2 linked regions of the Homo sapiens genome follow. The protein of the gene in region 1 purifies or fractionates together with the protein of each later gene. This does not show direct contact. Each region holds a gene or a part of one and is shown in the gene's direction. Other genes may lie near its edges.

Region 1 (5,636 bases):
AAAATAGGTTTGACTTTTAAACAATTTTAAATTAAAAACTGAGCTTTTAATATCTGTTTAGACAACTGTAAGACAGTGAAAGGTTTATTGACTTGAAGCCTACATTTTAGGAAACATGTAGTTAAATAAAAAATACCAATTTCAGTATTTTTCATAACCTTTTTGTAACTTTACCACAATCTTTTAGGAACTAACGTCATGAGCTTGGAAGGGAAATTTATTTGAAGTTCAGCGTAAACTGAGTTTCACTTCATTTTTAAAATTCTGTTAATCTCAAGCAAAAGTAAATACATTTTATTTTTTAAAAAAGTTAATAGTGGTTAGCTTTAAGATATTAAAAATAATTATTTTTTGTTATGCTCCTCTGTATTTTTCAAATTTCTACCAAAAATAGGTAAGTTTATAGTCAGAAAAAGCCATAAAATGTAGTTTTTACAAAGAAAACAATGGACAGCCATATTAATGTAATGTGAGGAAAGAAAGCAAAACAACAACAACAACAACAAAAAAAAACGCTAATCTGACAGCAAAAATACACTGAACACATGCTACCCCTTCCATACACGTGTCTCTTTCTCTGCTGTTCAGATGACAGTGATGAGCTGAAACCAAGCTGGTTTCCAGAACAGTTTTTTGTTTTAACTAAAAGCCACATTCAACTTCCTGTCATCAACAAGCACAAGGACCAGAAGGAGCTGCCTTTGGCTCTGGGGACCCCTCCTTCCTGATGGTAACACTGCAGGTCCCAAGGGACCCCTCACTGCCAACACCAGTGTCAGAGTCACCTGAGAGCCTGGGGAAATGCAGGTTCCAGGACCTCCCCTAGATGGCCAAGCTCAGCCCCTGGTGCTCAGGAACAGAGCGGTTTCTATTCCATCTTCAGAGGCCTAAAGTCTTTTTTTTTTTTTTTTTTTCTGAGACGGAGTCTCGCTCTGTTGCCCAGGCTGGAGTGCAGTGGCGCGATCTCGGCTCACTGCAAGCTCCGCCTCCCGGGTTCACGCCATTCTCCTGCCTCATCCTCCCGAGTACCTGGGACTACAGGTGCCCGCCACCATGTCCAGCTAATTTTTTGTATTTTTAGTAGAGACCAGGTTTCACCGTGTTTGCCAGGATGGCCTCGATCTCCTGACCTCGTGATCTGCCCGCCTCGGCCTCCCAAAGTGCTGGGATTACAGACGTGAGCCACCTAAAGTCTTCTTAAGCAAAGGCTGCAGCAGTTTCAGGGGGGATGTGTGTGACACTAATTAGTGTGAAGGACAGTCCCAGGGCATGCCAGCGCAGGACACAGCTATCCACCAGCACACAGGACCAGCACGTGGCCAGCATTCTCTATGGGGTGGGGCACCAGCACTGCGCTGCTTTTTTGGGATGGAAGGCCAGGCTCCCTGGGCTGCTAAAGCACAAGGCAGGCACAGTCATCCAAAGCCCAGCCATGAAGCTCACCTTCTGGCCCAGAACCAACCACGGGACAGCCATTTGCCAGGTGGCCTCCCTTCACAATGGAGACTCTTTACCGGGATGGGGCGACAATCCCAAGGCCACAGAACTTCCAGTCCCATGCTTCTCTGCCCACTCCCGGCGCTGCACCACCCAGCCTGGGGGTGCCACGTGGTGACCAGAAACCTCGTCATCCTGTCTACCCTTGGTGGGGTCTGGTGTGCACCCACAGACATCCAGGACCCAGGAAAGGCCTCTTGCAGACCTCACACAGCAGTGGGAATGGCCTCCTCTGGGGCCCTCGCTCTGAGTTGACACTGACGTCCTGGCAAGGCCTCCCTGCAGTGCCCAGCTATGAAGCCTGTCCCCTCCCATTCCCCAATCACCCTGCCCTCAACACCCTGGGGCCCAGCTTTCCATCCAGTCCATAGCAGGCACAAAGACGCACGTCCTGCAGCCTCAGGCACAGATACTAGGGGACATGACTGTGGGGGAGGCCCCCGATGCTGCTTCCCCATCTTTTATCCAAATATAGCCCTCCTTGGTACAGGAAGGGCAGGCCTCCCCGACCCCAACGAAGCTTGGGGACACAGTGCACTGTCACTCATAGGAGTGAAAAAGACTGTCCCTGGAAAGTCAGGAGGCAGCGCAGGGGTACCAAGTGCTGCAGGCTGCCAGGAGGGGTGCCCTCCTGGGGGCTGGGCCTGAGACTGAGAGCCAGGCGGGCAAAAGGTCTTGAGACGAGGACGGCGCCATCTCCTTCCGGTGGGAGGCACTACCTCCATCTACCGCCCAGAGGGCCAGGCTGGGGTTGACTTTCCCTACATCCTAAGGCTACATCCCGTACTGAGGATCTCACCTGTGGGACATGTTCCGCTTTTAACACTTACGTTGGAAATAACCCTGGGTTCTGAAAGTGGGGGACAGGTTCATTGCACCCCCTGGCACCTGGTCCTCAGCTCTGAAAATGGAGCAATAAATGCACTGCAGGGGTGTCGGGGGGGACAGGTGAGGGGGCAGGTGAGGGGGGCAGGTGAGGGGAGCAGGTGAGAGGGGGCAGGTGAGGGAGAACAGGTGAGGGGGCAGGTGAGGGGGGCAGGTTAGGGGTGGGTAGGGTGGGGGCAGGTAAGCAGGGACAGGTGACAGGGGTAGGTAAGAGGGGGAGCAGGTGAGGGGTGGGTAGGGCCAGGACACACACGCCAGCAGAGAACTGAGCATCACAGAGGCATGAGGCGTGACACCTGGACTGAAGGCCCCACTAACATCAGTGTTCTTGTCTGGCTCTTTGTCTCTTTCAGATACTTGTTCCCAGGACCTTAACTCACGTGTGAAGCCAGGATTTCCTAAAACAATAAAGACCAATGACCCAGGAGTCCTCCAAGCAGCCAGATACAGTGTTGAAAAGTTCAACAACTGCACGAACGACATGTTCTTGTTCAAGGAGTCCCGCATCACAAGGGCCCTAGTTCAGGTAACGGTCTGGGTTCTGGTCACATATCACGGACACCCCTAGGAAGCCGAGCTGCTACAACGCGACACCTAGGAGAGCAGGGCGGATATAATGTGAAGTCCCTGCTGAGTGCAGAGCTCTGAGCAGAAAGCAGATGCACAAGGGGTGGGAGTGGACAGCAGCAGCTGAGGCCAGCATCCCCCAGGGCCAAGCGCAAAGGTTACACAAAGCACACGGCTCCTGGGTGGTTACCAGGCCCCTGGCCCAGAGCCTACTAGGCATGGGGTAAGGAGGTGCCAGGGCCCTAATGGGGCTCCTGAGGCAGGCGCCAAGGCTGATGGGGGAGAAAGCCGCTGTCCGAGGAGCTGCCCCTGCTGGGACCAGGGTCCTCACCCGGCCTCACCCCTCACGTGCCCTGCAGCCCAGAGGTGTCTTTGCCACTTTCCCCCTGGAGTGCTCACTCACATCCCAGAGTCCAAGAGCTCTGCCCAAGCCACTGCCCTTTCCCTGACTCATTCCTACTGCGCCCGCTCAGCACCCTCCCTCCTAGAGGACCCTTGTCTGTGTCCTGAGAACACCCACTTGCTAATGTGGGATGCAGGCTGTGGATGACACCCACCACCGTGTGCTGGTGCCTGTAAGGGGCAGAAGCAGCCCTGTCCAAGGCAGTCTTCACAGTGTTCATGGTTATGCTGGGTCACAGGGAGGGGTGATTTTTATAACCTAATTATTTTTGACAATTGCAAACTTGTGAAGGACAGCATGTTTTCATATGAGAATCGTGGGTGTGTAGCCAGGGTCCTCGCTCTGCAGCCTGGCCTCAGGGACAGGGGATCTTCCCTGGGTGATGCAGGCCCTCCCTCCTTCTCCGGGTAGGCCAGTGGGATGCCCTGGTTCTGAGTCCTTGGGGTTCTCTGGGAGGGGACTTGGAGGTTGTCTCTCTCTAGCTTGGTGATATTGGGGACAACGTAATTCCCCTAAAGCTGAGACTAAAACCTGAGGAATTTTTCTTCAACTCCTCTAAGACCACAAATGAGAATGAACAAGGCGGCTGCCATATCCAAGTGGAGAAGGGCTGTCCAGAAACTCAAAACTCCCGACCCCAGGAATGGAGAGGGGAAGCCCGCAGACCCCAGGCCTGACACAGAGGCCACAAGAAACAGCCATCATGGGGCTGGAGTGAGGGCTGCAGGGCGGGCCCAGCAGGGCATGCAGGAGACCTAGTGTGACGTCCCTCCTGAGTGCAGAGCTCTGGCCAGAAAGGAGACATCTGTCTCAGGAAGGGGCACAAACCCAGCACGGGGCAGGGAGGGGAGTGGGAGGGGTCTGCAGGCTCTGCCGTAAGCCCGAAGCATTGCCCCAAGATGCTGGCCCACTTCCCTTCTCCTCGGTGGGCACCTGCACCACTGTCTTGAGGCCCTGCTTCCTAGTGGAGAAGCCTGCCCTCCCTCCCCTGTGCCCAGTAACCCAGTCCCTTTGCTCCCTCCAGATAGTGAAAGGCCTGAAATATATGCTGGAGGTGGAAATTGGCAGAACTACCTGCAAGAAAAACCAGCACCTGCGTCTGGATGACTGTGACTTCCAAACCAACCACACCTTGAAGCAGGTAAAGCAGCAGGCCCTTCTCTCAGATGTGCCCTCTCTTCCCCAGCCCACTCCCTCCCAGGACTGTGAAAAACACCGTCACCACGTCTCTAACGCAGCGCCCCAAACCTCACCCCTGAGGAAGCCAGGCCTCCCAGACTCCCGCACGACTGAGGATCCGGGAGAACAGGAGGTAGAGCCTGTGCCAGGAGCTCCTCAGATGACATCCTCCCGTCCCAGAGGCGGAGACACAGCTCTGGAAGAGCGTCCTGGGGTGCGAGTGGAGAGGGTTAGAGTAAGAAAAGCTTTCAAACAATCCAGAAATTATATATGTATCATATACATACATATGATATGTATCATATGTATATCATATATAGCATATCTCTGCAGAGAGAGCAAGAGAACGGGAACACAGCAACATTTAGCAATTACAGAGGTGAAAAGCACATTTTCTTAAATCGTTCTTTCAAGTTTTCTGTAGGTTTGAAATTTTTCAAAATGAAAAATAGGGGCAGGAGAAGAGCTCCTCCATGAGGACCACCCCTCCACGGGCAGAGGGCTCCCCGCAGGGAAAGTCTAAGCTCTCAGGTGTGCCCTTCTCTGTTTCAGACTCTGAGCTGCTACTCTGAAGTCTGGGTCGTGCCCTGGCTCCAGCACTTCGAGGTGCCTGTTCTCCGTTGTCACTGACCCCCGCCTCTTCAGCAAGACCACAGCCATGACAAACACCAGGATGCATGCTCCTTGTCCCCTCCCACCCGCCTCATGACCCAGCCTCACAGACCCTCTCAGGCCTCTGACGAGTGAGCGGGTGAAGTGCCACTGGGTCACCGCAGGGCAGCTGGAATGGCAGCATGGTAGCACCTCCTAACAGATTAAATAGATCACATTTGCTTCTAAAATTAACTCCTGTTTCTGAGGCTTCCCACCTAGATTCCGGGTCTGGGTGCAGGGGACTGAGTCAATGGAGGGAGTTGTGAAACTAAGGGATGATCCCCTGTGGCTACAGGCCCCCAGGAGAGCAGGGGTACAGCTCTGGGTCTGAATAATCAGCAGAGATGTGGGTGGGGACACTGTTGGCCACTGGGCGCCTTGGCCGGTTGTGATGAACACAACTGGGAATCAAGATGAACAGCCAGCAGCAGCCATGCCGGCCCTTTTACGG
Region 2 (4,390 bases), on another chromosome or scaffold:
AAATAGGTTTAGTATTTGCTGTCTGGAAACATTCTGATTAGTGTCTCCTGGGAGGATTATAAATTTATAGTACCCAAAGATAAACTGTTGTTTCCCTTTCCTAAACTTTTAGTGATAATCAGTCTCTGCCGTGTCTCATTTTCATCACTTGCCCTCCAAGCTCCCATCTCACTGAATTCTTGCAGTGTTCTGAATGTTGAGAGCCCCAAGTGGGTCTTATAACAGCCAGTCAGCAACATTTCTGTTTTTCATCTGACACCAAGGGTCTCGTCTCTTTGCTTTTCTACCAGTTATTCTGGGCTCTTCAGCTCTAAAGAAAGTATAGGTCCTGAAATCTTTCCCTACCTTCTCAATTTCCTGGGGAGGGCTTCTTTGGAAAGTGGGATTGGAAATAAGATAAATTTGAAGATAATTGAGAAATGAATGGAAAGTGAAATTGAAGGGTCCATGTTAAGAGATTGCAAGTTATGCTATCACCAAATAGATTTTTTGTGCCTGAGAGGATTAATTCATAGTGCATATTATGTGTTGACTTTATCATTGAGGTCCTGGCACATGATAGCATTGGCATGATATAATTTGAGCTACTGATACTATAGTGTTGCTTCTGGTGTTGTTACCAGAACATCTAAAATATATTAGGATTTTTTTAATGGCAGAGGAAATGAAGACTAATATGACATAGTCCTTGTCCTAGTGATTTACAGTTTAGCAAGACATACAAGCAAAACATTAAAGTAAAGCATGATAACTACTTTAATAAAGCATTTTTTAAATTCATTGGTAACATAAGAGAAGGTAGAAGAGTTTAGCAAACCCTTCCCAAAAGAAATGATTGACAAGTTATATGAGATAATAATTCAGGGAAAGGAAATTCGACTTTCTAAAGCCAAATTATTTGACATTGGTTTTCATATAGCTTGGTAAAAGCTGTTATTTTCTCCCATGTTCTTTATTCTTTGACTGTTATAAGTATGATTTGTACAGAGAAATGGCAATTTCAAAACAGAGGGCTTTGATGGATTAATTGCTTTGAATTGATCCCTCATCTACAGTATCTTGTCAGGTACTTGAGAAAATAATGTACTTAAAGTTTCCTCTTTTGACTTTCTTTTGGTATTCTATACTGTAAGTTGGGGAAAAAAGTATTTTCTCTTCCTGCTAATTGGGCTACTTGAAAATTCCCACCAACTTTGCCAATACCAGTGTTCTGTATAACCCAGAATTCAGAATTAGCTGCAATTAAGGGAATTCACAGCTTTTCTGTAGTCAGAGAGCAAATTGAAATTAAAGAAAAAAGAAATAGTGGGAGGACAAATGAGGTTTTACCTTTACACTTGAAAACAGATTTAAGAACAAGCCTTATACCTAGATTTATTAATACTTTGAGGTATGAGAGGGAAGAGAAGCTTAGAAATACGGCAGAATGGGCTTTCTTTGTTCTTCTCCCAGCTATGCTGTTTTTATTTATTATTGTATTTTTAAGAGAGAAGGGAAGTGTCTCTCCTGGGTCACATTAATTAGGAAATACAGAGTGTTTTCATAATGCGTAAAGTCTAGTCCATTTAAGTCTTGTTTCAAAATGCTATTTATATTATTTGAGCAGGAAGGCAGAGACCTTAAACTGCTCCACCCAATTCATTTTACACAAAAGATTAAAAAGAAAAAAACAGTGTCAAAAGGTCAAGTGCCCAGTGTTGCACAACTAATGATAGGCAAAACAAGAGAGGAGGGGAAAAAAAAGAATCCTGACTCCCGACTCCTAGTTCAGTGTGTTCTTCACTGTTAGAAGGTGCTGCTGAACATAGTTATACCATATGAAGATCACACTATCTATTTGAGATTGTAGAAATTTGATTACTGCAGAGCTCTGGCTGGGCTAGATTCACTTCTTATTCTTTATTGCATTGCAGTATTCTTAAGAGATAAATGGCTCTTTTAGAATCAGATTGGCCTTGGCTGTTGAAATGAGGCATTAATTACCTTGGTAGCTGACACATTCTTACAGGTCAGGGGCTTGATGAAGTTTATCTTCTTCCCTTGTTCCTGTGATTGCTCTGTAAATAGAACACATTCAGAGCCCTTGAATGCACTTGCAGCCTGTGCCTCCCACAGTGATCGATGGTCAGATAATGGGAGTTTAATGACCAGTACTGAGAGAGATTATTTCCATGGCTGCTATGGGCCAAGAAAGCTGGGTGGTCAGAAAGGGACCTTTTCCAGACTCTCCTGGGTTGTGTTATTTCTTTGACATTGGTTTCCTTTCATGAGGCGCCAAGGTGTATTTGTAAGTTGTCCAGTGTTGCACAGCTAATGAGGGGCAAAACAAGAAAGGAGGAAAAAAAAAGTATCCTCACTCCTAGTTCAGTGTGTTCTTCACTGTTGGAAGGTACTGCTGAACACAGTTATATGTTCAGTGTACAATGTACAATGTTCTTTGACATTCCGTCATTTGAAGGATGGGTCCTATGGATAGTATCATCTGCATGGTTTTGAAAACAAAAGATATAAGCTAATTTTGCCCTGTCTAGTGACTACGAGACAGGGAGAGAAAATCTGAATATTTGTTAAAGTAGACACAGACCCATAAATTGAAAAGGACACTAATCCTGCCTTAGGAGACAGTAAGGCACTTGTCCCTGCTATCTATTAGCTGTGTGTCCTTGGACAGCTCATTGCTTCTTTCTGAGCCACCGTTACACGTTATCTATCAAGTGAGCAGGTTGTACACTAGATGAATTCACAGGTCCTTCTTCCAAGTGCTTTTCTAATCTTCATAATTTAGATAATCTCTCAGTAGCAAAACAGTGTACAATATGGTCAATCTGAGATTTTTAGGGGGAGAATTTTAGGGAACATCAGAAATGGCAGTAGTTAAAAGGAAATAGGACTCACAGGCTGACTTCTCTCTATAACTTCACATGGTAGAAGGGATGAGAGTTCTCTCTGGAGCCTTTTGTATTAGGTCACTAATCCCAAAGGCCCCACCTCCTAAGACCATCACTTTTGGGATTGGGGTTTTAACATGATTTTAGAGGGACATAAACCTTCATCTCATTGCATTAGAGATATTTGAAAGCTCAGCTCACGTGTATTCCTCCACAGCTCACATGTATTCCTCCATCACCCAACCTGATGGCTTTGAACGTTGTAGACATAAATCCTTTCATCATTATCAAGAATATTGCCAAAAGCTTCTCAGAAATTATGAGGGGTTTTTTTAGTTTCTAAAATATTCTCAAAGAAAGTCCCATGTACTAATGTTTGCCTTTTGATGAAAAAGGATGAAATCTTAATGATTGCCTTAATAAGCTCAACAATGCTTGTTAGTTGAGTCTTCTTATTGTGCTGATTCTTATAAACAACAACATTCAGTATAAACATTAATGTATGTGATTCACTAAGGTTTTTGCATGATTCTCTGTGAGGCTTCAGATGTCTCTTGGATTATGTGTCTTTTTTTCATCGCCAGCATCCTGTGGCAGCTGCTACTCATTTGCTTCTATGGGTATGCTAGAAGCGAGAATCCGTATACTAACCAACAATTCTCAGACCCCAATCCTAAGCCCTCAGGAGGTTGTGTCTTGTAGCCAGTATGCTCAAGGTAAGTGTTGCATTTCAGACACCATTTATGAGCTATTTACCTGTGTGCAGCTGGCTGTTGTTGGCAAAGGCAAAAGGATGATGCAGTAGAGAGAGCGCAGTGTCTATAGTCAGAAAATCTGAGTGCAAGTCTGGCCCTATCACTTATTAATGGATGATTGCTCATGGAATTTACTGTACCATCCAGCAAAATGTCAATAGTTACTATATATTGAGTGAGCTCTGCTTGTTACATATATTGCCTAACAATGCTCAAAACTCTGAGAAGTAGTAAGTATAATCCCTATTTATGGGCGGGGAACAGGAACTAAGAAATTTTTCTAATAATTTGAAGGTCTCACAGCTTTTAGCATTGGAGTTTCACTTCTAATCATCGTCTCCAAAACCCAACTTTTATTAAAACTATACTAACACTGGTTTCTCTCTGGGAGAATTTTAAAATTCTGTACTTAGGGCTGGGCACAGTGGCTTATGCCTATAACCCTATCACTTTGGGAGGCTGAGATGGGTGAATCTCTTGAGTCCTAGAGTTTGAGACCAGCCTGGGCAACACGGCGAAACCCCTTCTCTATTAAAAATACAAAAAATTAGCTGGGCGTGGTGGTGTGTGCTTGTAGTCCCAGCTATTCAGGAGGCGGAGGTGTAAGAATCACCTGAGCCCAGGAGGTCAAGGCTGCAGTGAGCCGATATCATGCCACTGCACTCCAGCCTGGGCAAACGGAGTGAGGCCCTGTTATGAAAAAAAAAAAATCTGTACTTAGGCTTTCAGATCAGGCTGTATGTGATG

What was found.
Region 2: the proteins of CST7 (region 1) and CTSC purify together in Homo sapiens (co-immunoprecipitation; one study listed by IntAct). This does not show direct contact.

What each region holds. Positions count from the first base shown.
Region 1 is NC_000020.11:24,954,552-24,960,187, forward strand, and holds the end of CST7 (cystatin-F precursor), read left to right. Parts: intron 1-2,735; coding exon 2,736-2,908; intron 2,909-4,376; coding exon 4,377-4,493; intron 4,494-5,083; coding exon 5,084-5,161; 3' UTR 5,162-5,377; downstream 5,378-5,636. UniProt on the Homo sapiens protein: Inhibits papain and cathepsin L but with affinities lower than other cystatins. May play a role in immune regulation through inhibition of a unique target in the hematopoietic system.
Region 2 is NC_000011.10:88,295,347-88,299,736, reverse strand, and holds part of CTSC (dipeptidyl peptidase 1 isoform a preproprotein), read left to right. Parts: intron 1-3,472; coding exon 3,473-3,604; intron 3,605-4,390. UniProt on the Homo sapiens protein: Thiol protease. Has dipeptidylpeptidase activity. Active against a broad range of dipeptide substrates composed of both polar and hydrophobic amino acids. Proline cannot occupy the P1 position and arginine cannot occupy the P2 position of the substrate.